Linked DNA regions of Homo sapiens. The protein of the gene in region 6 purifies or fractionates together with the protein of the main gene of each other region. This does not show direct contact. Each region holds a gene or a part of one and is shown on either strand. Other genes may lie near its edges.

What was found.
Region 1: the proteins of CCDC14 (region 6) and CEP72 purify together in Homo sapiens (affinity purification with mass spectrometry; one large-scale study listed by BioGRID and IntAct). This does not show direct contact.
Region 2: the proteins of CCDC14 (region 6) and CCP110 purify together in Homo sapiens (affinity purification with mass spectrometry; one large-scale study listed by BioGRID and IntAct). This does not show direct contact.
Region 3: the proteins of CCDC14 (region 6) and CCDC77 purify together in Homo sapiens (affinity purification with mass spectrometry; one large-scale study listed by BioGRID and IntAct). This does not show direct contact.
Region 4: the proteins of CCDC14 (region 6) and KIAA1328 purify together in Homo sapiens (affinity purification with mass spectrometry; one large-scale study listed by BioGRID and IntAct). This does not show direct contact.
Region 5: the proteins of CCDC14 (region 6) and CCDC13 purify together in Homo sapiens (co-immunoprecipitation; one study listed by IntAct). This does not show direct contact.
Region 7: the proteins of CCDC14 (region 6) and SCLT1 purify together in Homo sapiens (affinity purification with mass spectrometry; one large-scale study listed by BioGRID and IntAct). This does not show direct contact.

Annotation. Positions count from the first base shown.
Region 1 is NC_000005.10:649,865-654,308, reverse strand, and holds the end of CEP72 (centrosomal protein of 72 kDa), read right to left. Parts: intron 1,322-4,444; coding exon 1,156-1,321; 3' UTR 756-1,155; downstream 1-755. UniProt on the Homo sapiens protein: Involved in the recruitment of key centrosomal proteins to the centrosome.
Region 2 is NC_000016.10:19,547,427-19,551,139, reverse strand, and holds part of CCP110 (centriolar coiled-coil protein of 110 kDa), read right to left. Parts: intron 3,186-3,713; coding exon 3,126-3,185; intron 2,626-3,125; coding exon of another isoform or gene 2,540-2,625; intron 1-2,539.
Region 3 is NC_000012.12:411,203-415,432, forward strand, and holds part of CCDC77 (coiled-coil domain-containing protein 77), read left to right. Parts: intron 1-544; coding exon 545-776; intron 777-4,230.
Region 4 is NC_000018.10:37,216,699-37,220,928, reverse strand, and holds part of KIAA1328 (protein hinderin), read right to left. Parts: intron 1-4,230. UniProt on the Homo sapiens protein: Competes with SMC1 for binding to SMC3. May affect the availability of SMC3 to engage in the formation of multimeric protein complexes.
Region 5 is NC_000003.12:42,763,026-42,767,255, forward strand, and holds part of CCDC13 (coiled-coil domain-containing protein 13), read right to left. Parts: intron 1-4,230. UniProt on the Homo sapiens protein: Required for primary cilia formation and promotes the localization of the ciliopathy protein BBS4 to both centriolar satellites and cilia.
Region 6 is NC_000003.12:123,929,902-123,934,131, forward strand, and holds part of CCDC14 (coiled-coil domain-containing protein 14), read right to left. Parts: intron 3,855-4,230; coding exon 3,772-3,854; intron 1,626-3,771; coding exon 1,407-1,625; intron 1,334-1,406; coding exon 1,201-1,333; intron 1-1,200. UniProt on the Homo sapiens protein: Negatively regulates centriole duplication. Negatively regulates CEP63 and CDK2 centrosomal localization.
Region 7 is NC_000004.12:129,083,238-129,087,467, forward strand, and holds part of SCLT1 (sodium channel and clathrin linker 1), read right to left. Parts: intron 1-4,230. UniProt on the Homo sapiens protein: Adapter protein that links SCN10A to clathrin. Regulates SCN10A channel activity, possibly by promoting channel internalization.

The DNA.
Region 1 (4,444 bases), on a different chromosome or scaffold from region 6:
TAGCACACAGCAACTGCACACACACACAGCAAGCGCACAAGCACACACACACAGCAAGCATGCACACACAGCTAGCACACACACAGCAAGCGCACACACAGCTAGCATGCACACACAGCTAGTACACAGAGCAAGTGCACGCGCACAGAGCACACACAGCAAGCGCACACAGCTAGCACACACAGCACACACACACAGCTAGCACACACACAGCTAGCACACACACACTAGGCGCACACACAGCACACACACACAGCTAGCACACACACACAGCAAGCGCACACTAGCGCACACACAGCACACACACACAGCAAGGGCACACACACACACAGCAAGGGCACACACACACACAGAGCTAGCACAGAGCATTTTCTTCTTAGGCCTGCTCATTCTTCCCAAATCAGTTGAACGTCATTTAAAAAATGACCTTGTCTTACCAATCACAGCAAGTATGACATAAGATATGAAGTTTCCAAACTAAAAATCTAGTTTTGTGTCCTATTATGACATAATTTTCAGAACTACACTGCAAACAAGAGAGCGAGCCAGGGCTTGGGTAGATGTTTCCGCTGTGATATGTTAATATCATAAGACAATATTTTTAAGGTTTTTTCCCCCACATCTATAAGTGTCACTTGTGTTAAGTCTTTGAACTTAATTATTCCCACTCACCTATCATGGTGCACAGCTTGTTCTATAAAAAACTCAATGACAAACTCAGTTATAATTTGTATACAGCCACTGAAAAAGTTAACTTTTCAGAACAATGTATTTGTTTATTAAATAAAGATTGCTTGTTACACAGAAAATTATTTTCTTTAATTATCATACATAGCTCTCTTTCACATCAGGCAGTAGAACACTGCATTTACTTCATCTCAGGATACTGGATACAAGATTAATAGTCAGTTTGTCTCAAAATATGTCAATGTGTTCTGTCTGAAAACATGCAGAGGGCTTGGAGTAATCATATCATTTTACGAGGTGCTTTAGAAAACCAAGCTACAGGTCCTGAATACATTCCAAAAATCCTAAATAATTACCAACAGAAGAGAGAACTCTTGCCAGCCAGTACACTCAATAAAGAAGTACAAAGGTGCAGACAATGTAACTTTACCAGGAAGCTTAAGGGGTGGCCCAGCTTCTCGGCAGGAGTCAGCAGGCCTGGCAGCCTCCATGGCTGGCGCTGCTGTGTGGAAACAGGGCCATGGTCTTCTTGAGCTCCTGGTAGCTCCAGTGCATCTGCTCCACCTCGGCTCTGTGCTGCGCCCGCACCTGGCTCAGCTCCTGCAGCAGGTGTTCATTGGTGCTGACCAGGGAGCTGCAGAACAACAGGGAAGCGGCTGCTTGGCACTTCCGTCCTCTCCAGCGGTGTGGCCCTCACCTGCTGGGCCTGCCCACCTCCCTGCATGGGCACGAAGGTGCCCTGGCCCTGCACACAGACCTATCTCTGTGGCCCCATCACCTTCTGTGTCCCACTGGCTACCGCCCACCTGCCTCCTCCTTCCCAACCACTGTCCTGACCCCTGGGAGCAGCCTTGGAGGTGCGGCTCAGCACCTATGGAATGAATGAATGAGCTGAACAGGCTAATGAGTGACTGAATGGCGCCTTGGCTATTCCAGCTACGCATGGTTTTATGAGAAGATGATAAACTTCATGGCTAGCAAAACAATGTTCTAATTCTAGAAAATATACGGGGACTGAAATAGTTCTAATTCCCAGTCAAATATAATAATTTTGACATCATAATAGTGCAATAGAAGAGTCCTAGTCTTTAATGCTGTTGACCATTTTTATTTTAGAAGTAAAGTGCTATTACATTTTACCCACTTTGTCACCTCCAAATTGCCCTAATCACCCAGTCAGCGATGACCTGAGGACACTCAGGGCATTACAAGTATTAGACAAGGCAGGGCCCACTGACCTCGGTCACATTAGCCACAGAGATGGGCACCCCACTGACAGGGCCACTGTGCAGGCCCAGGCCCTGTTCACTTGGACAGCAAAGGAGCCGCAGGCCAGGACTGGATGAAGCCAGCATGAATCCTGGGGGCAGAAGCCCAATGCCACCATGTTTGGGAGCTGTGCACCCTGCCTTGTCCACATCCAGGCCACAGTGCTCAAGGAGAATGACCCCCAACTGTACCTTGACCTGCCACAGACAGGCCCACCAGGTTCCAGGGAGTCACATGGCCCTGCCCACGACTGGGCACTGCACCCGCGGCCGCCACAGTCCCCTTCCTTCTGCTCCGCTGCATCTCCTCTTGGCCCAGTCTCATCTTTCAGGACCCTTCCCCTCTGTAACTTACACCTGTGATGGGCCCCATGGGGGTCTGTGGCCTTTATCCTGTAAGGGGCAGAGCCTGGCTACGCCTATGACCAGACTGTGGTCGAACCCAGGTAAGTGTGGCAGCCTCAGCCTGAGGAGTGGGGGAGGGAGCGGGAATGGGAGGTCGGGGGAAAGGAAGAGGGAATGAAAGGGGGAGGGGAGGGGGAGGAACTGACCACAGACCAGCCTTCCCTGCTGAGGCCACAGCAACAGGGGTTCACACAGCAGCACCCACAAAACTGCCCAGAGCGACCTGTCCTTGCCTCCTCCAGCAGCTCGCCTCTTCCTTTCTGCACCCAGCCTCCAACCACGTCCCGGCACACAATTCTTAAAAGACAAACTAAGATTCTGCCTTGAAGATCCCCTCACACCCAGCCCCCTTCTCACCATCCCCCTATAGCCAGGGAGTAAAGGTGAAATCTCCGTGTTTCCAACTGAACACGCACTGCAGTGAAGGGGGAAGCACAGCTGCCGGACTACCGCCCAGGGGAACCAGGTTGCCCCGCCGTGCCCGACCATCTCTCATGCACCTCTCTCCCCTGGTCACACTGCACACAGGTCATATCTCACAGTCCACAACTCTCAGTCCACACCTCACATTCACAACTCACAGTCCATGCCTCAGTCACACCTCACAGTCACACCTCACAGTCCACGCCTCACAGTCACACCTCACAGTCACACCTCACAGTCACACCTCACAGTCCACGCCTCACAGTCACACCTCACAGTCCACGCCTCAGTCACACCTCACAGTCCACGCCTCACAGTCACACCTCACAGTCCACGCCTCACAGTAACACCTCACAGTCACACCTCACAGTCCACGCCTCAGTCACACCTCACAGTCCACGCCTCACAGTCACACCTCACAGTCCACGCCTCACAGTCCACGCCTCACAGTCACACCTCACAGTCCACACCTCACAGTCACACCTCACAGTCCACGCCTCACAGTCACACCTCACAGTCCACGCCTCACAGTCACACCTCACAGTCCACGCCTCACAGTCCACGCCTCACAGTCCACGCCTCACAGTCACACCTCACAGTCACACCTCACAGTCCACACCTCACAGTCCACGCCTCACAGTCCACGCCTCACAGTCCACGCCTCACAGTCCACGCCTCACAGTCCACGCCTCACAGTCACACCTCACAGTCACACCTCACAGTCCACGCCTCACAGTCACACCTCACAGTCACACCTCACAGTCCACGCCTCACAGTCACCCCTCACAGTCCACGCCTCACAGTCCACGCCTCACAGTCCACGCCTCACAGTCACACCTCACAGTCACACCTCACAGTCCACGCCTCACAGTCACACCTCACAGTCCACGCCTCACAGTCACACCTCAGTCCACGCCTCACAGTCACACCTCACACCCACAGTCACACCTCACAGTCACACCTCACAGTCCACGCCTCACAGTCACACCTCACAGTCCACGCCTCACAGTCACACCTCACAGTCACACCTCACAGTCCACACCTCACAGTCACACCTCACAGTCCACGCCTCACAGTCACACCTCAGTCCACGCCTCACAGTCACACCTCACACCCACAGTCACACCTCACAGTCACACCTCACAGTCCACGCCTCACAGTCACACCTCACAGTCCACGCCTCACAGTCACACCTCACAGTCCACGCCTCACAGTCACACCTCACAGTCACACCTCACAGTCACACCTCACAGTCCACGCCTCACAGTCACACCTCACAGTCCACGCCTCACAGTCCACGCCTCACAGTCACACCTCACAGTCCACGCCTCACAGTCACACCTCAGTCACACCTCAGTCACACCTCACAGTCCACGCCTCACAGTCACACCTCACAGTCCACGCCTCACAGTCACACCTCACAGTCCACACCTCACAGTCACGCCTCACAGTCACACCTCACAGTCACACCTCACAGTCCACGCCTCACAGTCACACCTCACAGTCACACCTCACAGTCCACGCCTCACAGTCCACGCCTCACAGTCACACCTCACAGTCCACGCCTCACAGTCACGCCTCACAGTCACGCCTCACAGTCCACACCTCACAGTCACACCTCAGTCACACCTCACAGTCCCACCTCACAGTCCACACCTCAG
Region 2 (3,713 bases), on a different chromosome or scaffold from region 6:
CCATTTAATGAGTTTTTACTCTGGAACAAACACTGAGCTAGGCAATATACATTATCATATTTAATCCTTATATGAATCATCCTGAGGTAGAAATTGTTATGACCATTTTAAGGATAATAAAACTGAGGCATAGGAGAGCAGTTGCCTAAGGAACAGAGCTAGAAGGAAGAACTCTGATAACCCAAGTCCACCTGATGTGTTATTTTACTTAACCATTTTGCATGACCACCTCCTACTCTGCTTTGATTAGTGGTTTCTGAATTTCACTATATAAACTCTAGTCAAGCACAAAACATCAAATGAAGAAATGTGTTTTAAAACCGTAAGTCAAAGATCACTTACGATAACATCAGAGATTGCAATTTAGGTTTGTAAAACTATAAATAACTAAATGCTTTGCAGCATACTTTAACATTTTAGAATTCTACTTCAGTCTAAGAGTATGATATTCTATCATAAGAAAAGTTAGTTTTCTATAAATTGCTTAACAAAGGATTTGCCTCCATTTAGAGCAAATCAGAACATAATTTCAAATTTGTTTAAAACATAATTCAGACCATTAAAACTCTAAGCAGGAAAGAGTAATCTTTTCAAGAGCGACAGTGAGTTCCTGTGTTCAGATTCATAGTTAGCATTTTAACCAGCCAATATCCCAAACTCTCAGTTTATATAAAAGAATACAATTCTGGCTGGACGCGGTGGCTTACACCTGTAATCCCAGAGCTCTGGGAAGCCGAGGTGGGCGGATCACCTGAGGTCAGGCGTTCGAGACTAGCCTGGCCAATATGGTAAAACCCCATCTCTACTAAAAATACAATAAATTAGCTGGGCATGGTGGCACGCGCCTGTAATTCCAGCTACTTGGGAGGCTCAGGCAGAAGAATGGCTTGAACCCAGGAGGTGGAGATTGCAGTGAGCCAAGATCACACCAATGCACTCCAGCCTGGGCAACAGAACAAGACTCTGTCTCAAAAAAAAAAAAAGAACACAATTATTTAGTTTCTTTCAATTGTCTAAATATGCACTCATGTATAAGTAAATCTTTAGAAAACAACAGCAACAGACTTTTGTACTTGTTTAGATACATATTAATTCAAGGGTTAAGTTCATTTGTATTAATAAGTATGTTGCAATGCAATTTAACCTCAATAGTTCAAAATAATGAACTTCATTGTATGTTACTAACTTCAGTGACTGACTATACATCCTTTATACTGTTGAGTATTGCTGAATAAAAACAGTACTTGCTATTTTGCTTATAAGTTCACAAGTGACAAATAGTGGAGATGAAATGCATGAGAAAAGAACATGGAGAGTAGTCACTGTGGCAAATTGGTATCAGGCAAAACAATACTAATTCCTCAATGATTTTCCAACTTGCTAAGTTTCAGTGCAATATAGAATACTAACATGAGAAAAACAGAAAATGTCTTAAAATTCCACAGGTTTGGTGTTTGGTCTGAGTCCTTTCAAATGGTTATCTTTCAAACTAGCTTATTCTGACTGCCTCTGGAGTAAACAGTATCTTCAGCTATGTAATCCTTTAAGACAATTCCATTAACTGTCACTCACAATGATTTCCAAAGATGATCTTTTAAATTATCCTATATATGTGTGACACTATGAATTACCTTCACTACATACATACAAAAGGTCAGCCATCATTTCAAAGTTACGACCAATAGCTTGTTCCCTCCTAATTTGAAGGAAATCACTTAGTAATAAAGCTCTAAAATTTGCCTAATTGTATATTAATGGAAAGATTAAAATTGATTAAAGGTTTAATCTTCAATGCCTGGTGATTAATTTAGGTTTGTTGTAAATGTCTAGAAAGCAGTATAGTTAAAGCACAACATTTGGAAAGTATTTTTAAATGGATCACATAATTTTTAAGTGAGCTTAATCAAAGTGTCTTAACAAAGATACCTAAAAAATATTAAAGCATTTGGTTAAGAGCTTTGAATTTGCTCAAGAATGAGTTTGTCTTCTTGCCACCATAAACAGAATTTTAAAATACAGTTTTTAGTTTAGCTCTTAATCCTCAAATAATGAACATAAGGAGAGATTTAGCTCAAGCTTTGGACTGAGCAAAATATGAAGCCCTCCTCCCACTGGCATATTCACATGTGATCTTATAGTCTGAGGGAGAAAGTTTATCCCCTTATGTGCAGATACACTTCCCCAAGCTGAACAGACAATGCACAGACTTAGCACCAGAGATGATCGTTATCTTTTATTCATTAAATAAAAAGGTTTTCTGAATTAAGCATGGCAAATTCTACAATTTTTTCAGAATGAAAAATACAAGGTGCTTTCCACAGAAATATTATAGAAATGAAGACTGGAATCACACTTTTACTAAGACTTCCTGACTGCCATACAATGCTAAGACCAAAGAACACTAATAAGATGACTGTGAATATGCCAAAATTATGGTGGCAAGGAAAGACAATCTATTCCACTTCTATGGCCTGAGTTATGGGGCAGCTTGTGCACTTCCTTCTATTGAATGGGCTTCAGGAATTTATTTTCTACAAACCTGAAACAGGCACTCTGTTAGGCACTCTGCTCTGTGAAGGCTTCTGTCTATTTTGCACAACCCCCTTCACTGATGTCTTAGGGGTTCTAATTGAATATAAAAAAATTAATAAGTCACTGGCATTAAGGTCTAAATGTTCAAAATTCAAAGAAAGCAATCACATTGCATCAACTGTCCAAAGCACAAATAAGCTTGAAAAGAACTGAAGTCTCATGCATGCGCACAGTAAGGAAAGCTAAACTCTGGCTTCAGCAGGAGACTATAAGCACGAGTCATACTCTGTTGGAGAATCACTTCGGTGATGCTGAATTTACTATATGGATATTTAAAATACTTTATGAGTAAAATGGTATGAAATGAAAAGTAAAAACATCCCAACTTAAGACAGTAATTAGAATACACAACAGTACACCAAGAGGGTTACATTTGAAGACAAAACTTTAAAATATCTTTCCCAATGCTATAAAGAAAAAAAATCCCATTGAAAAACCATTATCCTTTACATAAAGAACACTAGATTTATTTTTCCCTCTCAAATCTAATCTTGGTTTCCGTAGTTTTCAATACCCGTGTGTGGCATTCTTACCCTTGTCTACTAAGTAGCCTATGAACAGGTGCATTCTGTCCTTGGTTTGGCTGAAGGACTCTGTTGACAAATTAAATGAAAAATTAATTTAATAGGTTAAATTCCATTTTTTCCCATTTTCTTTCAACGGATGAAAGATGATGACTGTAAGGTAAAGGTCAACTATGCAATAATATGGCCTATATATTACCACAAATCAGAGCAAATCGACTAAAGCATATTAATATGATACTTGTATTTTGCTCACTAAGAGTCCAAACCTTAGGTTTTTATCAGCAAAGAAATGTCCAACATATAGACTAACCCTTGTGCTTTTAGATAATTTTCTTATACATATGCTTTACAAAAGCTAACTTTTCCCTTCAAACCAGTGAGAGAAGAAAGTATCACTCTCATTTTACAGGAGTAAAAAACAGGTCAGAAATATTAAAGTTCGCTTTTTAGCTTTATTTTTTATTTATTTATTTTTTTGAGATGGGTCTTACTATGTTACCCATACTGGTTTGAATTTCTGGGCTTAAGCTATCCTCCTGCCTCAGCCTCCCGAGTACCTGGGACCATAGGAGCATGCCACTGTGCCCAGCTTAA
Region 3 (4,230 bases), on a different chromosome or scaffold from region 6:
CTCGCTCTGTCGCCAGGCTGGAGTGCAATGGCATGATCTCGACTCACTGCAACCTCTGCCTCCCAGGTTCAAGCGATTCTCCTGCCTCAGCCTCCCGAGTAGCTGGAACTACAGGCGTGCACTGCCACACCCATCTCATTTTTTATTTTTGTATTTTGGTAGAGACGGGGTTTCACCATGTTGCCCAGGCTGGTCTCGAACTCCTGAGCTCAGGCAATCTGCCTGCTTTGGCCTCCCAAAGTGCTAGGATTACAGGTGTGAGCCACCACGCCCGGCCAAGATTTTTTTTTTTTTAAATAAAGACAGGGTTTCACTATATTGCCCAGGCTGGTCTTGAACCCCTGAGCTCAAGTGATTCTCCCACCTTGGCCTCCAAAAGTGCTGGGATTACAGGCATGAGCCACTATGCCTGTCCAAACTTCCAAATTTATGAGCACCTTAATTATAAGCACTTTGGGAACACAAAACCCCCTTTTATTTAGGAAGTTATAACTCATAAACTTTCGCAGAGTGTGATGAATATATCATTTCTAATTTCACGTAGGCGAACAGTTGTCTCCAAACGTGGTGTTGCCGTCAGTGGTCCCACCAAGAGGAGGGGAATGGCAGATTCACTGGAGTCAACCCCCTTGCCTTCCCCCGAAGATCGTCTGGCCAAACTCCATCCTTCTAAGGAGCTCCTGGAATATTATCAAAAGAAGATGGCTGAGTGTGAGGCAGAAAATGAGGACTTGCTGAAGAAACTGGAACTCTACAAAGAAGCTTGTGAAGGACAGGTAAAGAAACGATGCTGCTGCTTTAGAACTCTGATGGAGTCTTCATAAATTAGAGATGCCCTACAAGTGCCAGTTTATATCAGAAGCAGATGTTTTATAAAAATACTCCTTTTTTATTCCCCAGCCCAGCTATTGCCCCTTCAGGCCCTCCTTGGATCATAACCCCCAAAACTGCCCTTCCTCTCAAATCTTAAATTCTGACATCTCCATATCTCTTATACCTAGTTCTTTCATCTCCTTGTACCTGAGTAGTCCTTAACTTCTTTGTTACCTCCATAGCTTCCTGACTTTTCAGTTTTCTGAGTGCTGTATATAGCTCTGATATCAAGTCCTTCAAACCTAAACCCCATGATGCTTTACTTGAGTAGTAACTGCAGTGCCTGCAAATGACCCCTTGCTCAATTATTCTTCTGCTCCACCTGCATAGCAAAAACTGAGCTGTGGCATCATCCAGTTCTCTGCCACGTGTTCTCCTATAGCAGGATTTCTTAACCTCGGCATTATTGACATTTTGGCCTGGATGATTCTTTGTTGTGAGGGGTTGTCCTGTGCGTGATGGGATGTTTAGCAGGATCCCTGGCCTCTACCCGCTGGATGCCAGTAACACAACACCCCCAGCTGTGACAATCAAGAATCTCTCCAGACATTGCCAGATGTTTCTGGAATGGGTGTATGGATGTGCAGAGTCACTCCTGATTGAGAACACTGTTGTAGAAAGGTCACAAATCAGTACAGAATGAATCGATGGTAAACAAATTCAGCTGTACCCTCAACCATTATACAGCAGTCTTCTCACCTATCCTTACTGGCTTTCCTCTCCTTCCACATCTGTGCCATACCCTCACCTCTAGCCTGCAACCCCTTCTTAGCCCTCCTCTCTCAACATCTTTTCTGCCATCTGCACACCGTTACTCCATCCGTATCTATCTCCTTCTTCCTTCCTTTGTTTTTTCTCTGGTTGCTTTTCTTTTTTTTTTTGAGACGGAGTCTCGCTCTGTCGCCCAGGCTGGAGTGCAGTGGCGCGATCTCAGCTCACCACAAGCTCCGCCTCCCGGGTTCATGCCATTCTCCTGCCTCAGCCTCCCGAGTAGCTGGGACTGCAGGCGCCCGCAACCATGCCTGGCTAATTTTTTGTACTTTTAGTAGAGACGGGGTTTCACCGTGTTAGCCAGGATGGTCTCAATCTCCTGACCTCGTGATCTGCCCACCTCGGCCTCCCAAAGTGCTGGGATTACAGGAGTGAGCAACCGTGCCCGGCCTGTTTTTTTGTTTTTTTGAGACAGCGTCTTACTCTGTCGCCCAGGCTGGAGTGCAGTGGCGCGATCTCAGCTCACTGCAAGCTCCGCCTCCCGGGTTCACGCCATTCTCCTGCCTCAGCCTCCCGAGTAGCTGGGACTACTGGTGCCTGCCACCATGCCCAGCTAATTTTTTTGTATTTTTTTAGTAGAGACAGGGTTTCACCGTGTTAGCCAGGATGGTCTCGATCGCCTGACCTCGTGATCCACCCGCCTCGGCCTCCTAAAGTGCTGGGATTTCAGGCATGAGCCACTGCGCCCGGCCTCTCTAGCTACTCTTTTTATATAAATGGCTCTTTCTTTTCCCAGTCACACTTCCAGAATCTTTTGACTTTCCCATTCACTGAATGGGATTTTTTTTTTTTTTTTTTTGAGACGGAGTCTCGCTCTGTCGCCCAGGCTGGAGTGCAGTGACGCAACCTCAGCTCACTGCAAGCTCTGCCTCCTGGGTTCAAGCAATTCTCCTGCCTCAGCCTCCCGAGTAGCTGGGATTACAGGTGCACGCCACCACACCTGGCTAATTTTTTGTATTTTAGTAGAGGCAGGGTTTCACTGTGTTGCCCAGGCTGGTCTCAAACACCTGAGTTCAGGCAACCTGCCTGCCTCGGCCTTCCAAAGTGCTGGGATTACAGGCGTGAGCCACCGCGCCCAGCTGGGAAATGTCTTGACTGCAGTTTCATCTCGGTCCTTGCCATGCCACTAAAACCGTGCCGTCTGCGGTCTCCAAATACCTGTTTACCAAACTTTTCTCTTTTTGCCCTTTGCAGTGTCTGTCACTTTTGACCTCTCTTTTTCTAAAATTTTCTTCCTTTCTTGATTTCCTTTTTTTTTTTTTTGAGACGGAGTCTCACCCTGTCTGCCAGGCTGGAGTGCAATGGCACAATCTCGGCTCACTGCAACCCCTGTCTCCCGGGTTCAAACGATTCTCCTACCTCAGCCTCCCAAATAGCTGGGATTATAGGTGCCCACCACCACACCTAACTAATTTTTGTATTTTTAGTAGAGGTGGGTTTTCACCATGTTGGCCAAGCTCATCTCAAACTCCTGACCTTGTGATCCGCTTGCCTTGGCCTCCTGAAGTGCTGGGATTACAGGCGTGAGCCTGGCCTCCTTTCTTGATTTCTGTGTCATTTTTCTTTCACAATTTCTATCTAACCTCTCTGATCAGCTCATCTCAGTGTCCATTAACAACTCTCTTTCCTTACTCTTAAATTTCAGAGTTCTTCCAGATTCTACTATAAATGACCTTGTTTTATCCTTGTATTACACTTCTGCATACGGGATGATGACTGTTAAATAACTAACCCTGACTCACTTTTCTCCTGAGGCTCCTTTCTCTACCCTCCCTTCCCCACCCGCACATGTACTGCCACCATTTCGCCTTCCTCCGTTTCTCATGCCTTAACTTTTTCTTTATTCTTTGTCTTGGCAAATGGCATCATTGCCTACGGTTCTTCCAGTCCCCCTAAACCGAATCATTTGGCAAGTCCTGTTGATTCTGCTTCCTAAATATTACTTAATCCATTCCCACACCCACCTCACTTTGGCCACGATGCTCACACAGACCCTTGAGTTGCGTCTAAACTGTGACGGTGTCCTCCTTGCCAGTACCTGCCTCTGGCCTCTTACATCCCCAGTTGGCCTCACACTTTTCACTCTAGCAGTACTGAAATATTTGTACTTGTCCAAATTTAATAGGCTTTTGTTTTTTGGAGGTTTACTTGTCATTTTTATCACATTATGTATGTATACAATGAATTACAGGGTAATTCATTCCATTTGGGCTCCTGGATAGCTTCAGGATGGGAGCTGGTTGCCAGATGGCAGTGATGCAGCATCTCTGAATACATTTACTGGGACACAGTGTGAGCCACCGTGCCCAGCCTAATTGTTTTTGTAGATTCTACAAAAAAAGTGTTTCCAACCTTTTGAGTTCCACTGTGGACTTGTATGCTCTCCCTTTCTCTGAATCAGTTGTTAATATTTATTAACATAATTATTAACATAATATTATGTTAATATAATCAACATAATATTATGTTAATATAATCAACATAATATTATGTTAATATAATCAACATAATATTATGTTAATATAATCAACATAATATTATGTTAATATAATCAACATAATATGTTGATATTATTAACATAATTAA
Region 4 (4,230 bases), on a different chromosome or scaffold from region 6:
CTTGAACCTGGAAAGTGGAGGCTGCAGTGAGCTGAGATCGTGCCACTGCACTCCAGCCTGGGCAATAGAGCAAACAAACAAACAAAAAACCAACCAACCAACCAACCAAACAAACAAAAACAGTTTGGAGTACCACATAGGGCCCTAAGGGGATAGCTGGGGCCAGAACCTAGCTCCAAATTAATGGTGGTGACAATGGCAGAAGCAGCAGTGGTGAGAGGCTGGGTTGTCTGTTTCCCAAGCCCATCCCTGTGGCAAAAATGTCATCTTTCTGGCCTGAGAACTGGGATAGGAACTGCTAGCATTAAGTATAAATGCCAGTAAATTATTAGAAAATAAAAACATACACGTGGACATTACAATGAAGCATATCAGAGATATATTAGAAGCCTTCAAAGAGTTTAGAATCTCTGGTTTTAAAAACTGCTACAACACTGGAAAGCGAACATCCACAGGTTTGGAAATAAAAATTAAAGATTGTTGCATTTGATAGGAAAAAACCCACTATTCTCATATGCAATTTCTAATGAACCAATTATTAATGAGGAATACAATTTTTAAATTTAATTTTTCTTTGTAACTGAAGATGCTGCTATAGAAAGCATAAACAAGCACTGTGAATTATAGACAAATCATTAAGTGATTTTTGGTTTCTTATATGATCTTTATATGTTACAGAACATGCTAGAGAAAACATTAAAATGACATCATAGAGATTTGTATTTAAAATTAAATTCCAACATGTATGAAACTAATGTGTATGAAGAGTTAAATCTTTTTAGAAAATCTGATCCCCAAGAATAATCACCTCTATATAAACTAAAATTCATATTTGGAAATACTTTATTAGAAATCTATGCAAATGTTGGCACAGCCTACAAAATACTCTTAGCAGCTCCACTGTCAGTTGCATCAACAGAAAGATCCTCCTCAAAATTAAAAATTAGAAAAAATTGGGGGATACAGTTCCAAGATGGCTGAATAGGAACAGCACCAGTCTGCAGCTCCCAGTGTGATCGACAAAGAAGATGGGTGATTTCTGCATTTCCAGCTGAGGTACCTGGTTCATCTCATTGGGACTGGATGGACAGTGGGTGCAGCCCACAGAGGGCAAGCCGAAGCAAGGTGGGGCATCACCTCACCCAGGAAGCGCAAGGGGTCGGGGGACTTCCCTTTCCTAGCCAAGGGAAGCCATGACAGGCAGTACCTGGAAAATAGGGACACTGCCACCCAAACACTGCGCTTTTCCAACAGTCTTAGCAAATGGCACACCAGAAGATTATAAACCACACCTGGCTCAGTAGGTCCCATGCCCACGGAGGCTTGCTCACTGTTAGTGCAGCAGTCTGAGATCGACCCGCGAGACAGCAGCCTGGCAGGGGTAGGGGCATCTGCCATTGCTGAGGCTTCAGTAGGTAAACAAAGCAGCCAGGAGGCTCAAACTGGGTGGAGCCCACCGCAGGTCAACGAGGCCTGCCTGCCTCTGTAGACTCCACCTCTGGGGGAAGGGCAGAGCTGAACAGAAGGCAGCAGGAACTTCTGCAGACTTAAACATCCCTGACAGCTCTGAAGAGAGCAGTGGTTTTCCCAGCATGGTGTTTGACCTCTGAGAACGGACAGACTGCCTCAAGTGGGTCCCTGACCCCTGTGTAGCCTAACTGGGAGACACCTCCCAGTAGGGGCCGACTGACACCTCATACAGCTGGGTGCCCCTTGAGATGAAGCTTCCAGAGGAAGGATCAGGCAGCAATATTGCAGTTCTGCAATATTTGCGGTTCTGCAGCCATCTGCTGGTGACACCCAGGCAAACAGGGTCTGGAGTGGACCTCCAGCAAACTCTAACAGACCTGCAGCTGAGACACCTGACTGTTAGAAGGAAAACTAACAAACAGAAAGGAATAGCATCAACATCAACAAAAAGGACATCAACACCAAAACCCCATCTGTAGGTCACCATCATCAGAGATCAAAGGTAGATAAAACCACAAAGATGGGGAGAAACCAGAGCAGAAAAGCTGACAATTCTAAAAACCAGAGTGCCTCTTCTCCAAAGGATCACAGCTCCTCGCCAGCAATGGAACAAAGCTGGACAGAGAATAACTTTGACAAGTTGACAGAAGTAGGCTTCAGAAGGTTGGAAATAACAAAATTCTCCAAGCTAAAGGAGGATGTATGAACCCATCTCAAGGAAGCTAAAAACCTTGAAAAAAGATTAGACGAATGGCTAACTAGAATAAACAGTGTAGAGAAGACCTTAAATGACCTGATGGAGCTGAAAACCATGGCAGGAGAACTACGTGACGCATGCATAAGCTTCAGAAGCTGATTCCATCGAGTGGAAGAAAGGGTATCAGTGACTGAAGATCAAATGAATGTGTAACGCCTAACCTTGTTTTTTACTCTAGCTCACTACTTTAAATTTTCCTTTTTTTGTCTCCTTAATTGCCAGCCATGTTTCCCATATGAATACACTCTCCCTGGCTGGGAAAGCCGGACAAACTCCATTTGACCTCTTGATTTACAAGACATTAAGGGCTCCTTACCCAACCCCCTTCCTTAAGGAGTTAACCTGTGTAAGCAGATCCTCAGCATTTCAAAGGAGCCCAATTAACTGGTAAGATACTGGAGCAAACAATGTATGAAGTTCCCAGGGTTTTGCTCAAAGAGATAACAACACAAAGCCTTGAGTTCCTGTCTGGCATAGCATTTATATCTAACTATAATGAAGGATTTAGAGCCTTGCACCTGGTACCCTTGCTCTTTTTGTAACCATTTGTCTTTTAAATTGTTCATTTCTCTGTAACCATTTGCTTCTTTTGATTCTTGCATGTTTTTACTTCTGTAGAGTTATTGCATTTAAGTCCCCCTCCCCTTCCTAAACCTAGGTATAAAAGTTAAGCCCCTTCATCGGGGCCAAGAGAATTTTGAGCATTAGCCATCTCTTTGGCCGCCGGCTTAAATAAAGGACTCTTAATTTGTCTCAAAGTGTGGCATTTTCTCTAACTCCTGTGGCTATAACAAATGAAATGAAGCAAGAAGTTTAGAGAAAAAAGAGTAAAAAGAAACGAACAAAGCCTCCAAGAAATATGAGACTATGTGAAAAGACCAAATCTACGTTTGATTGGTGTACCTGAAAGTGACAGGGAGAATGGAACCAAGCTGGAAAACACTCTTCAGGATATTATGCAGGTGAATTTCCCCAATCTAGCAAGGCAGGCCAACATTCAAATTCAGGAAATACAGAGAACACCACAAAGATACTCCTTGAGAAGAGCAACCCCAAGACACATAATTGTCAGATTCACCAAGGTTGAAATGAAGCAAAAAATGTTAAGGGCAGCCAGAGAGAAAGGTCAGGTTACCCACAAAGGGAAGCCCATTGGACTAACAGCTGATCTCTCGGCAGAAACTCTACAAGCCAGAAGAGAGTGGGGGCCAATATTCAACATTCTTAAAGAAAAGAATTTTCAACCCAGAATTTCATATCCAGCCAAACTAAGCTTCATTAGTAAAGGCAAAATAAAATCCTTTATAGATAAGCAAATGCTGAGAGATTTTGTCACCACCAGGCCTGCCTTACAAGAGCTCCTGAAGGAAGCACTAAACATGGAAAGGAACAACCGGTACCAGCCACCGCAAAAACATGCCAAATTGTAAAGACCATCGATGCTAGGAGGAAACTGCATCAACTACGAGCAAAATAACCAGCTAACATCATAATGACAGGATTGAATTCACACATAACAATATTAACCTTAAATGTAAATGGGCTAAATGCCCCAATTAAAAGACACAGACTGGCAAATTGGATAAAGAATCAAGACCCATCAGTGTGCTGTATTCAGGAGACTCATCTCACGTGCAGAGACACACACAGGCTCAAAATAAAGGGATGGAGGAAGATCTACCAAGCAAATGGAAAGCAAAAAAAAAACAAACAAAAAAAAAACAAAAAAAAAGCAGGGGTTGCAATCCTAGTCTCTGATAAAACAGACTTTAAACCAACAAAGACAAAAAAAAAAAAAAAAAGAGACAAAGAAGGCAATCAAAGAATGGTAAAGGGATCAATTCAACAGGAAGAGCTAACTATCCTAAATATATATGCACCCAATACAGGAGCACCCAGATTCATAAAGCAAGTCCTCAGAGAGTACAAGGAGACATAGACTCCCACAAAATAATAATGGGAGATTTTAACACCCCACTGTCAATATTAGATAGATCAACGAG
Region 5 (4,230 bases), about 81 Mb from region 6:
AGCCCCCAGAACCAGAACAGATTCAGAGTGACTCCAGGGCTGCCACCTAGTCGAAAAAGATTTATGAACAGAAAAAGGAAAGTGATGAACAGAAAGCACAAGTGAGGTACAGAAACAGCTAGACTGATTACAGCTGGCTGTTTGCCTTTTTTGAATACAATTTGAATAGCTGGCTGCCTGTGATTGGCTGAAACTCTGTGACTGGTACAAGAGTAGATTGCAGTCTGTTTAAATTCCTAGTCAGGTTACAGTTTACTACGTACAGAGAAACCTTTAGGCTGAACTTAGAATATATAAGAAGGCAGCTTTAGGCTACAGTTAGTTTAACACATCCCACAGACATTTTTGTTTGGCTCTTACAGAACACTATGTTAGGATTTGAATTTGTTGCCAACATTCAAAGAATTGTAGTTTCAATATCAGATTTCCAGTGTCAACAAAAACAGTCAAACTCTGTAAAATATTTGAAGAGATGTACTTTTTTTTTTTTTTTTTTTTAGATGAAGTCTCGCTCTGTCACCCAGGCTGGAGCGCAGTGGCACAATCTTGGCTCACTGCAACCTCTGCCTCCTGGGCTCAAGCAATTCTCCTGCCTCAGCCTTCTGAGTTGCTGGGACTACAGGCATGCACCACCACACCCAGATAATTTTTGTATGTTTTTGTAGAGACATGGTTTCACCATGTTGGCCAGGCTGGTCTTGAACTCCTGATCTCAAGTGATCCACCCACCTCAGCCTCCCAAAGTGCTGGGATCACAGGTGTGAGCCACTGCACCCAGTCTGAAGAGATTTATTCTGAGCCAAATGTGAGTGATCATGGCCTGTGACACAGCCCTCAGGAGATCCTGAGACCACGTGCCCAAGGTGGTCAGGGCACAGCTTGGTTTTATACATTTCAGGCAGACCTGAGACATCAATCAAATACATTTAAGATATATACCGATTTGGTCCAGAAAAGCAGGACAACTCCAAGGTTGGGAGGGGGGAGCTTCCAGGTGATAAGTAGATTTAAAATTTTTCTGATTGGTAATTGGTTAAAAGAGTTACTATAAATAGAAAGGAATATCTGGGTTAGAATAAAAGAGATAAAAGTTTTGATCATGCAAATGAAGCCTCCAGGTAGCAGGCTTCAGAGAGAATAGATTGTAAATGTTTCTTATCAGACTTAAGGTCTGTGTTGATGTTAAATGTTGGTCAACTTTTCCTGAATTCCAAAAGGGAGGAGGGTATAATGAGGCGTGTCCAACCCTTGCTTCCCATCAAGGCCTGAACTGGTCTTTCAGGTTAACTTTGGAGTGCCCTGGCTGAGAAGGAAGTCCATTCAGATGGATGGGGGGCCTCTGAATTTTATGTTTAGTTTACACCAGCTTCTTTTATAAAAGTTTACAGATCTGGCAATGCTGGGCCCATCGTCCCACACGGACAGCAGCTGCTATGCAGAGAGTTCCTTTGGTGCATAATAGGTTCTTTCCATTAAACCACTGTCCCTGCCACCTCCAGATGCTGCAGCTGGCACATCAGCTGCCCATTATCACTGCACATAAATGTTGTTCTTTCTCTTAAACCTGCTGGATTCACTTTTATTTCCCATCAGCCACAGCAGATGTTTTGGGTTTGTGGCTCCTGCTGTGGATTAAGCCCAGTGGCATCTCAGAGGCTGGCTTCAGCCACTCCTCTACCTGGGAGGCCTTCCTCCCAGGCCTCCCCATCCCAGCCCTTTACCTTCCCACTAACTCCCAGTTAGCCTCTAGGATTCCCCTCAGGGCACTCTGTGGACTCCCAGAATCCCTAGGGCACCCCTTGATCACTAAACTTAACCTCAGTGTATTATAATTATCTATTATTTTATTTACATTACTTCCCTTTACAAAGAGACCTCTTAAGGGCAGGGGTCCTAATACCTTATTCATTTGCTAAATCTCAACATCTTGCCCAGAACAGGCCTTCAACTGTCATTTGTAGAATTGTCACTGAATGAATGAACACAGTAACTTGTAAAGCTTTTCTCCTTTTCTACTCCCAATTTGCACTTGAAGTCACTGAGGAACTGGTACTCATTGAATGTACACTGTGCCCCAGGCAAATTACTTAACCTCTTTGCTTTCGTTTCCCATTTGTAAAATGGGACTCTGATACTTACGAACTTCACAGGGAGTTTGTGAGATTAAGTGGAAGAATGCATGGAAATAATTATCATTATCACTGTATGAAAAGTGGTGCTCTTGGCCCAACGGAGCCTCTGGGATAGACAGTAATGCCTGCACTGAGAGGACACCTGTGGTCCAGACCGGCCCCCAGAGTATTAGTATCTAATCTGTGCTATTCATGAGGCCAGTGGAGATTTGAAATTAATTATCTGGGCTGTGGCCAGGGTGTCTATTTTTATTTTTATTTTTTTGAGATGGAGTTTCACTCTCGTTGCCCAGGCTGGAGTGCAATGGCACGATCTCGGCTCACAGCAACCTCCATCTCCTGGGTTCAAGCGATTCTCCTGCCTCAGCCTCCCGAGTAGCTGGGACTACAGGCATGCACCACTACGCCCAGCTAACATTTTTGTATTTTTAAAGCTTCCCAGGTGAGCCTAACGTTCAGCTGGTTTGAGAATGAGAGGTGTTAAGCACTCTGAGAGGCTGTCTGGGGAGAGAGAAGCTGCAGGAGAGACAGGCATCTCAGTCAATTTGAAGCTGAATGCAGAAGAAATTCACCTGGGTGGGGAAGGGACGGTGCCTGAGTGGGGGGCAACGGGCTCTCCTGCCAGAACAGCATGTGCAGAGAATGTGATGAGTGTGGGGAACTATGAAAGGTTCAGAATGGCCAGAGGGCAGGGCACATTTGGGGAGGCACCAGAAGAAGGGTCTGATCTGCCCAGCTAAGGAGCCTGGACTTTATCCTGAGGCGCTGGAGATGTTCAGAGGGTGCACACAGGATCAGCTTTGCCTTCTGCAGAGCTGGAGGCAAAGGGCCTAGCTAGGAGGGGGTCTCTGGGAAGCCATGTGGGCCTAAATCAAAACTGTAGCAGTGGAGATGGAGGAGGGGGAAGAGGAATTGCTGCCAAATGGAAGGGACTGAAGGCAACTATGCAGAGAAGGAGAGGGGAGAAACCTAGGCGGTTTGGGTTTGAGTGACTGGGGAGACAGCAGGCCCTGACAGAGGAGCAGTTTTCCACGCTGCAGACAAGGTGGTGGACTTTGAGATGCTGGGTGGGCAGCTGGCTGGCTGAGATGCTGGGTGGGTCTGGGGTTCAGAAGGGAAGTCTGAGCTGGAGCCTCAGGTAGTTGAGACCTAGAGTATGAACAAAGCAGCATGAGGAGAAGGTGTAGAGTGAGGAGGTGGGAGAGAGGGAAGGAGAGGGAAGAGGAAGAAGAGACAGCTGGAAGCAAGTAACAGCCTGACGGGTTCATCTTGCCTGCTGTTCAGAAAACCAATGCACTAAAAACAGCGAGTTTTGCAGCAAAGAAAGAGTTTGATGGGCCAGTCAAGTGAAAGGAGGGGAGGTAATTCTCAGATCTTCCTCTCACTGCAGTGAGCCATGATTGCACCACTGCACTCCAGACCGGGGAAAAGAGCGAGATCCTGTCTCAAAGAAAAAAAAAAAAAAACAACCAACCAACCAAACAAACAAACTTCCTCTCCAAGAATATTAGCAAATTGAATCCAATGATGTATTTGAAAAATTATACCACATGACCAAATAGGAGTTACTTTAGGTATGCAAGGCTGGTTTAACATTAGAAAATCAATTAACATAAACCTATCACATCAACAGGCTAAAGGAGAAAAGTCACACAATCATATTAGTAGACACAGAAAAAGCATTTGACAAAATCCAATGCTCATTCATGATAAAAGCTCTAAGTAAACTAGGAATAGAGGGGAACTTCTTCAATTTGATTAAGAACATCTACAAAAAACATACAGCTACCACCATACTTAGCAGTGAGAAACTACACGCTTTACCCCTAAGACTGGGAACATGACAAGATGTCCCTTCTCTCTACTCTCTTTCAACATCATACTAGAAGTTCTACCTAATGGAATAAGCCAAGAAAAGGAAATAAAAGATATATATTTTGGAAAGGAAGAAATAAAATTGCCTTGGTTGCAGATGACTGATTGTCTATGCAGAAAATCTCAAAGAATCTATTAAAAAAAAAAAGAACAAAAAAACTCCTGGAACTTATAAGTGATTGCAGCAAGGTTGCAAGAAGTAAGGTTAATACACAGAAGTCAA
Region 6 (4,230 bases):
ACTAACAAAATTCTCACCACAAAATTATTCCTTAGAAAAAAGGAAACATTCCTTGGGATACCTTACAAAGACTTCCATAAGAAGGGACATTCTATTACTTTATTTTGAATAAGACTGGTATAAGCCAATATTCAGAACCTCTGACTAGAACCTAATCAATTATAATTATATGATTACAAAAAATGTCTTGCTTTTGCCATTGTTAAATAAAAGTTTGAATGCAAATATCCTATGAAATATAAATGTGGAAAAAGGGCAATATTTCCATGTGAACAGATCATTAATTTCAAATACATTTATAAAACTAAATTAATAAATTAAATGTTATATATTACTGTTTCATTTGCTTCCCTACAAGTTTATCATTCAAAATGAGGGGGGAAGTTGAAAATTCAAAATCGATCTGTTCATTGGAAACACAAGGAAGATTATTTTATATTCAAGATTATTTTATATTTGGAACTTCTAGGATCATTCGAAGACAAAGTCAGATCTGCAGATCTTTAGGCCTCAGATAACTGACTTCTCGCCTAGAACTTTAAAAAGCAGTTGAGAATCCAATTCTTAGCAAATATCTCAAAAGAAAACTGAATTTTGTAAGTGAATATCATAGAAAAATTGAGTGAGGTAATTTTATTTTAGAAAAATACTGTTAGGGAATGAAGTGATCTCAAGGGGTACTGCCAACTCACTCATTTAACTGATGAAATAATGCTGAAAGAGGCTGACTTACCCAAGATCATATGGCATGAGGGCTTACCATGCTAAGTGCTTTTCATGAATGATTTCTTAGTTTCCCATGACAACTCTATTCATGTCCCTACTTTACAGCTGAGGTTTAGAGAAGTTAAATGGCTTGCTCAAAGTTACTCAGCTAATATGTGGCAGAGCTGGGATTCCAGTCAGATCTCTCTAGCTTCAGAACCAGAGGGCTCAATGGTGTTGCTATACAAGTCTTCAGCTTCTCATCAGGACCCCCTGCCCAGAATCACATGGTTTTAAAAAAACATTTCGCCAGGTTTGAAATTCCTAAACTAATTTAATTGGAACAGAAGAAAACATCATTAGAAATTAGCAAAAACATTGGCAAAATAAGAGAAAAAGATATGGGGGAGAAAACAGGTCTAACATTATTTTGAAGTTTATAAAAACATCTAAAAATAAAAAAGGCATGAGTTATTCAAAGGAAGTCAATTTTACCTGGTTAATTCTCTTAGTCGAGTCACCTCAGCATCACGCTGACGTAATGTTATCCCCAATATCTGGTTTTCCTTTTCAGCAGTTTCTAACTTAAACTGGGAGCTTTTCACATTGACTAGGGCTTCCTCCAATTCTAAAACAACAAAAGTTTCAGTTTCCTTATTCCTTTTAAAAGATGTGACCATAACTACTGTCTAAATACGTACCAATTTTTATTCTTGTTATCTCAATATCATATTGCTGTTTATTTTCAAGTATAGTTTGATCTTTGTCTTTAAATATACTACTAAATTTTTTGTTTTCATCTTTCTGATTTTCAATCACTTTTAACAGCTCTTCATTTTTACTCTGCAGTAATTCCTGGCTCTTTAGTGACTCCTCCAATTGATTTTGCAGTGACATATTCAATGACTGAAGAGAAAACACTGTTAAGACAAAATGGATCAAATAGTTGTTTCCCAAACCTAAAAAGTACAAACTTGGAAAATACCTGTTTCTTAAAAAAAAAAAAAAAAGGCCTGAAATTTATTGATTTTGTTTAACGATTAATTGCATGAGCAGTTCTACATAAATACTACATATATTTTTAAAAATGATTGGCAGAAGTCATACCTTTCTTTTCCAGTTGACATTTTAAGCATTAATTTTTTAAACCCTTTTAAAAGAAAGAATACATAATCCTTTTAAAAGAATAATACATGTACAAAGTTAAAAAATTCAAACACCACAGAATGTCAATGATTCTCAATGAAGAATCTCCCTTCCACTCCTCCTCTCTGTCCCCAGAGACAATCAGTATTAATTTTGGTATCTTTCGTGAAAACACTTTTACATATGGTATTAATTACACTACATACACACACATACTATACACAATTTCTAACTTTGCCTTTTTTTCCCATAAGACTGTTGTATACAAACACATAGATCTATCACGTTCTTTTTCATGGCGATAAAAGTATATGGCACCATTTGTTGAGCAAATACATGCTCAGCGAATGCTTCCTATGTGTGAGGTATTGTATTAGAATCTGAATATACAGAGATGAACAACACAGACGTGGCCCCTGTTCTCACAGAGCTGATAACAAACAAGTAATTATACACAGTAATGATCTCAAAGAAACAATAAGATAAATGATCAGATAATATAAATAAGAGAAGCTATTTAAAGTGGCAACTACTGATCTCCCCACTTGTCCTCTAGGCCTCCTCTCTCCTACCCTCTCCCTTTCCTCACCTTTGGTTAACAGTGGAGACACAGTGATAATTTCTGAATCACTCTGGTGAAACTGAACACTTTTATAAAGTGCTCATTCTGTTGGGCAATCATATTTTTTTCTTATTGATTTATAAGACATATTTATATATTAAGAAGATTAAGCCTTCATCATGTCATGTATTGTTTCTCCATTTTGCTTATGTTTTGAATGTATTTATAATTTTGCTATGTAGAAACTGAAAAAGTTTTCTGGGGACATATTTTATCAATCTGTTCCTCTGTGGCATTTGAGTCTTTGTCAGGCTTAGGAAAAGTTCCCCTCCAAAAAAATAAAAAAATAAAAATTCTTATATTTTCTTCTGGTACTATTATAGTTTCTTTATTAAGCTCTGTGATCATTAAGGACAATTTGGCAATATCTGTCACAATTGCAACTGTATATACCCTTTGGCTCAACAATTCTACTGCTATAAATCTATCCTACAAAAATGCTGGCCAGGCGTGGTGGCTCATTGTCTGTAATCCCACACCTTGGGAGGCCGAGGTGAGTGGATCACTTGAGGTCAGGAGTTCAAGACCAGCCTGGCCAACATGATGAAACCCTGTCTCTAATAAAAATACAAAAATTAGACAGGCGTGGTGGCAGGCGCCTATAATCCCAGACACTTGAGAGGCTGAGGGAAGAGAATCACTTGAACCTTGGAGGCAGAGGTTGCAGTGAGACACGATCGCACCACTGCACTCCAGCCTGGGCCACAGAGTGACGCCGTCTCAAAACAAACAAACAAACAAACAAACAAACAAACAAAGCTGACATATATGCACAAAGACATATACAAAGATTTTCACTGCAATGTTGTTTGCACTGGGAAAAAAGGGGAAAGTACTATTAGCAAAGGACCATATTATGGTAGACCTGGATAAGCAGAATACCCAAGTAATTCTTAAAGAGAAAGATGCATAATTATGTATTTTGATAGACAAAAGTGTCCATTATATGTTAAGTGAATAAACAGAAGCTGTGGAAAAGTATGTACAGTGTGATCTCATTTTTAAAAAAGTACATATATAGTTCTATTTGTGCCTGGCACACAGTAGGTATTCAGTAAGTGTTAAATAAATCAATTATATATGAAGAGAAGATATGTAAAAGGAAACACACTCCTGTATTTCAAAACAAACAAACAAAAAAAGGTGTATATTATTGGGAAGTGACAGCATCTTTTATTTTCTTATGTTTCTACAATATTTTAAATTTATCCCCTCAAAGTAATTACAAAAGCTCAATTCTTTATCAACATTTCCGGAGCCACAAATAATTTATCAATCCTTAAAGTTCTTTTACCTACATTCAAGGTTGCAATCCACAGCACCAGATGGTTTTTGAGTTTTCTGTTGTTCTCTGAGTTGCTGGTTCAAAATTCTCAACTGCCTAAAGAAATAATGAAGAACTATGAATGCAAGCATACCAAGCCAATTTAATAGTATACATGTGATAGCCTATCAAAAAAGATAAAACATAAACCCACTAAGACAGCAGAAGTCCATCTCATCCCCAAAAGACAAAAACTAAATAAACAAAACAAAAACAAAACCATACTACTATTATTATGAGGCCTGAGATAATTTTTAAGGTTGCCTGAAACAACATAAAACCTCCCCTCATGGGCCAGGCGCGGTGGCTCACGCCTGTAATCCCAGCACTTTGGGAGGTCGAGGTGGGCGGATCACCTGAGGTCAGGAGTTTGAGACTAGCCTGGCCAACATGGCGAAACCCCATCTCTACTAAAAATACAAAAATTAGCTGG
Region 7 (4,230 bases), on a different chromosome or scaffold from region 6:
AACAAGACCATACTTTTATTTACATCAAGAAAAGTAACATACATACAACATAGTACCCAACAAATTTGCAATCACACGTTCTTTTCAAGATCACACAGAACATTTAATGTTGATTATTCACTGGTAAAAGAAAGTCTCAATAATGTTCAAAGGACTGAAACCAAAGACAGTATGTTATCTTACAATAGCACTATTAAGTTAGTATCAAGAACCAAAAAAAAAAAAAAAAAAGGAAAATCCTCTATATGTTTGGAAGTTCAGAAATCACTTTTGGCCAGGCATGGTAGCTCATGCCTATAATCTCACTGCTTTGGGAGGCCAAAGTAGGAGAATCACTGGAGCCTAGGAGTTTGAGGCTACTTTGAGGCTACAGTGAGCTATGATTGCACTACGCTCCAGCCTGGGCAACAGAGCAAGACTCTATCTCAGAAAAAAAAAAGAAGAAAGATCTCAGGAGGAATTACAAAATAAATTTTAAAGTATTTTGAAGTGAACAATAGTGAAAATGTGATACCTCCAAACTTGCTTAAAGAGAAATCTGTAGCTTTAATTGCATATACTAGAGAAAAAGTCTGAAGTTACAAATGCATTCCAAGAAGTTAGAAAAACAGCACCAAATTAAATCCAAAGAAAGCCAAGTGGAGTAAATAAAGATAAGCCCAGAAAATAAAGAAATTGAAAATAAACTCACAAAAAATGATAAGAAATATGATCATCTCAAAAGTTATTTTAAAAAAGCACCTGATGAAATTCAAGATATATTCATGATAAAGCCTTATCAAAGTAAGACTAGAAGGGAACACTGTTATTATAATGAATGCTTACGTAAAATACACAACAAACATCATACTCATGAGTAAAAATGTTGAAAACTTTCCCTTGAATTAGGAATCACATAAGGATAAATTCTTATGACATTTACTCAACACTCTATTGGAGGTCTAAGTTAATGCAGTAAAGCAAGTAAAAGACCTAAAAGACACAAAGGCTGGAAAAGATGAAACAACTGTCATTATTCATAGTTATGAGTGCATATGTGATTAATCCAAAAAAACCACAGATACATACTTAAAAATCAATCATGAAGATTAACAAAGTTGTTGGATACAAGGTCAATATATAAAAATTAATTATATTTCTAGATACTGGCAGCATAAAGTTAGAAAACAGTAAAAGATGCTATTTATAGTACCATAAAAAAAAATAAATGCCCAGTAATAAATACAACAGAAGATGTTTAAGACCTCTACACAGAAAACTATGAAACGTTTCTCTGGAAAAAACTTTAAAATTCATATGAAACCAAAAAAGAGACTGAATAGCCAAAGCAATCCTAAGCAAAAAGAACACACCTGGAGGCATCATGTTTCCTAACTTAGAACTACACTACAGGGCCACAGTAACCAAAACAGCATGGTACTGGTGCAAAAAACAGACACATAGGCCAATGGAACATAATAGTGAACCCAGAATTAAGGCCACATACCTACAACTATCTGATCTTCAACAAACCTGACAAAAACAAGCAATGAGGAAAGAATTCCCTACTTTAAATGGTGCTCGGATAACCGGCAAGCCATATGAAAAAAGACTGAAACTGGACTCCTTGCTTACACAATATATAAATAATAACTCAAGACGAATTAAAGACTTAAATGTAAAACCCCAAACTATAAAAACCCCGGAAGACAACCTAAGCAACACCATCTGGACACAGGAGTAGGCAAAGGTTTCATGACAAAAATGCCAAAAGCAATTGCAACAAAAGCAAAAATTACAAATGGAAACTAATTAAAATAAGGAGCTTTGGCACAGCAAAGGAAACTATCCACAGAGTGAACAGACATGCTGCAAAGTGGGAGAAAATTTCTGCAAACTGTGTATCTGACAAAGGTCTAATAGTCAGCATCTATAAGGAACTTGAACAAATTTACAAGAAAAAAATCCCATTAAAAAGTGGGCAAAGCTCATGAACAGACACCTTTTAAAAGAAGACATATATGCGGTCAGCAAGCATACAAAAAAAAGCTCAACATCACTGATCATTAGAGAAATGTAAATCAAAACCACAGTGAGATACTACCTCACACCAGTTAGAATGGCTATTATTAAAAAGTCAAAAAATAACAGATGCTGGTGAAGTTGTGGAGAAAAAGGAACATTTATACATTTTGGTGGGAATGTAAATTAGTTCAACCATTGTGGAAGACAGTGTGGCGATTCCTCAAACACCTAAAGACAGAAATACCATTCGACCCTTTAATCCCATTACTGAGTATACACCCAAAGGAATATAAATCATTCTACCACAAAGACACATGAGCATGTATGTCCATTGCAACACTATCCACAAGAGTAAAGACATGAAATCAACCTTAATGCCTATCAATGGTGGTCTGGCTAAAGAAAATGTGGTACATGTATACCATGGAATACTATGCAGCCATAAAGAAGAACGAGATCATCTCCTTTGCAGGAACATGGATGGAGCTGGAGACCATTATCCTTAGCAAACTAATGCAGGAACAGAAAACCAAGTACGGCATGTTCTCAATTATAAGTGGGAGGTAAATGATGAGAACACATGGAGGGGACCAACACACACGGTGGCCTATTGGAGGGTGAAGGGTGGGAGGAGGGAGAGGATCAGGACAAGCAACTAATGGGTATTAGGCTTAATACCTGGGTGACAAAATAATCTGCACAACAAATGCCCATGACACAAGTTTACCTATATAACAAACCTGCACATGTACCCCTGAACTTAAAAGATAAATTTTAAAAAAAGAAAAACTTAAAACAAAAAATTAATCACAATACAAACCTCTTTTTTTTTCCCTGACAGAGTTTTCAATTAAGAAAAAAACTAGATCTGTGTCCTCAGTAATTAAAATAGGATAAGAAGTAAATTATGTATTAATAATGAGGGAAACACTTTCAATCTTCATAGATTGACTATAATCTGGAGAAAATTTTACTGTAACTTAAATGTTATTATTTCCTTCATTCTACAAGTACTTATCTGGCTTGTTTAATTTGCGTTTCCTGGATACCTGAAGATGCTGGTGTATGTATGTATATATATATATATATATATATACACACACACATTCATTGTTAGTTTCAATTTACTAATATTTTATTTTGGATTTTAGTTCCAACATGCATAAGTGAAACAGGTTTACAGTTTTCCTTTCTTGCAAGTATGCTTTTTGTGTAGCAGTTAAGAAAAGAGACACTGAAACTAGACTGCCTGGGTTCAAATCCCAGCTCAGTCACTTACTAGCTCTGTTAACCTTGACTTTGTGAAGGCACTTATCCAGAGGGTTCAGCTATCTATAGGTACTAAACAGCATTTGGTATGAGAACTGTAAAGGCAAACCAACCAATCATGGCATGAGGTGTTACTGGGCATCAGCTATAGAAAAGCAGGGGTATAATCATATTAAGATTACTGACAAGCGCAGAAGGACTAATGGGCAATGGTTACAGCCTGTAAAAGACACCAGTAAAAACAAACTGGGAAGCAGTCAAGGTGGTAAAGAAAATGAAGGGCTCAAAGGATGAGGAGGTCAAAGAACAGTTATAGTAGGAGTAAGATACTTGAGTTTAAGACATCAAAAAGTAGGGCAACTTGAATAGGACTTCTGCTTATACTCAAGAAGAAATAACATGGACCACTTTTCTGCCTGACACACATGAAAAAGCAAGCAAAAAAATCATCAATACCTTATAGTACACTAGACATCAGACAATGATAATCAGAGACAAGAAACAAATGAGGTAAGCCCTATGATTGCCCCACCTTAATGACTTAAGAGACTTTCCAGGGCCATGACACGGGGGGAGGAAATGCAAGTGGAGACCACTGGACTCTTATTAAGAGGTGGAGCTGAGAAGTAGTGGAGATTAAGTGAACTAGAATTGGCAGGACAAAGGATAGAAGACTGCACAGAGAAAGAACCCTAGGGAATGTGAGACCTGCAGAGGTTCTTCTCGAGTACAATACAGAGTACTGAATAGCTCTTTATTTATTAAAGAAATTAAGTTTGTATTTTAAAACCTTTCCACAAAGAAAACTTCAGGTCCAGTTGGCTTCACTGGTGAATTCTATCAAATATTCAAGGAAGAAATAATATCATTTTATACATACTCTTACAGAAAGTTGAAGAGTACAAAATATTTTCCAAGTAATTCTATGAGGCTGGCATTACCTGATACTAAAACCAG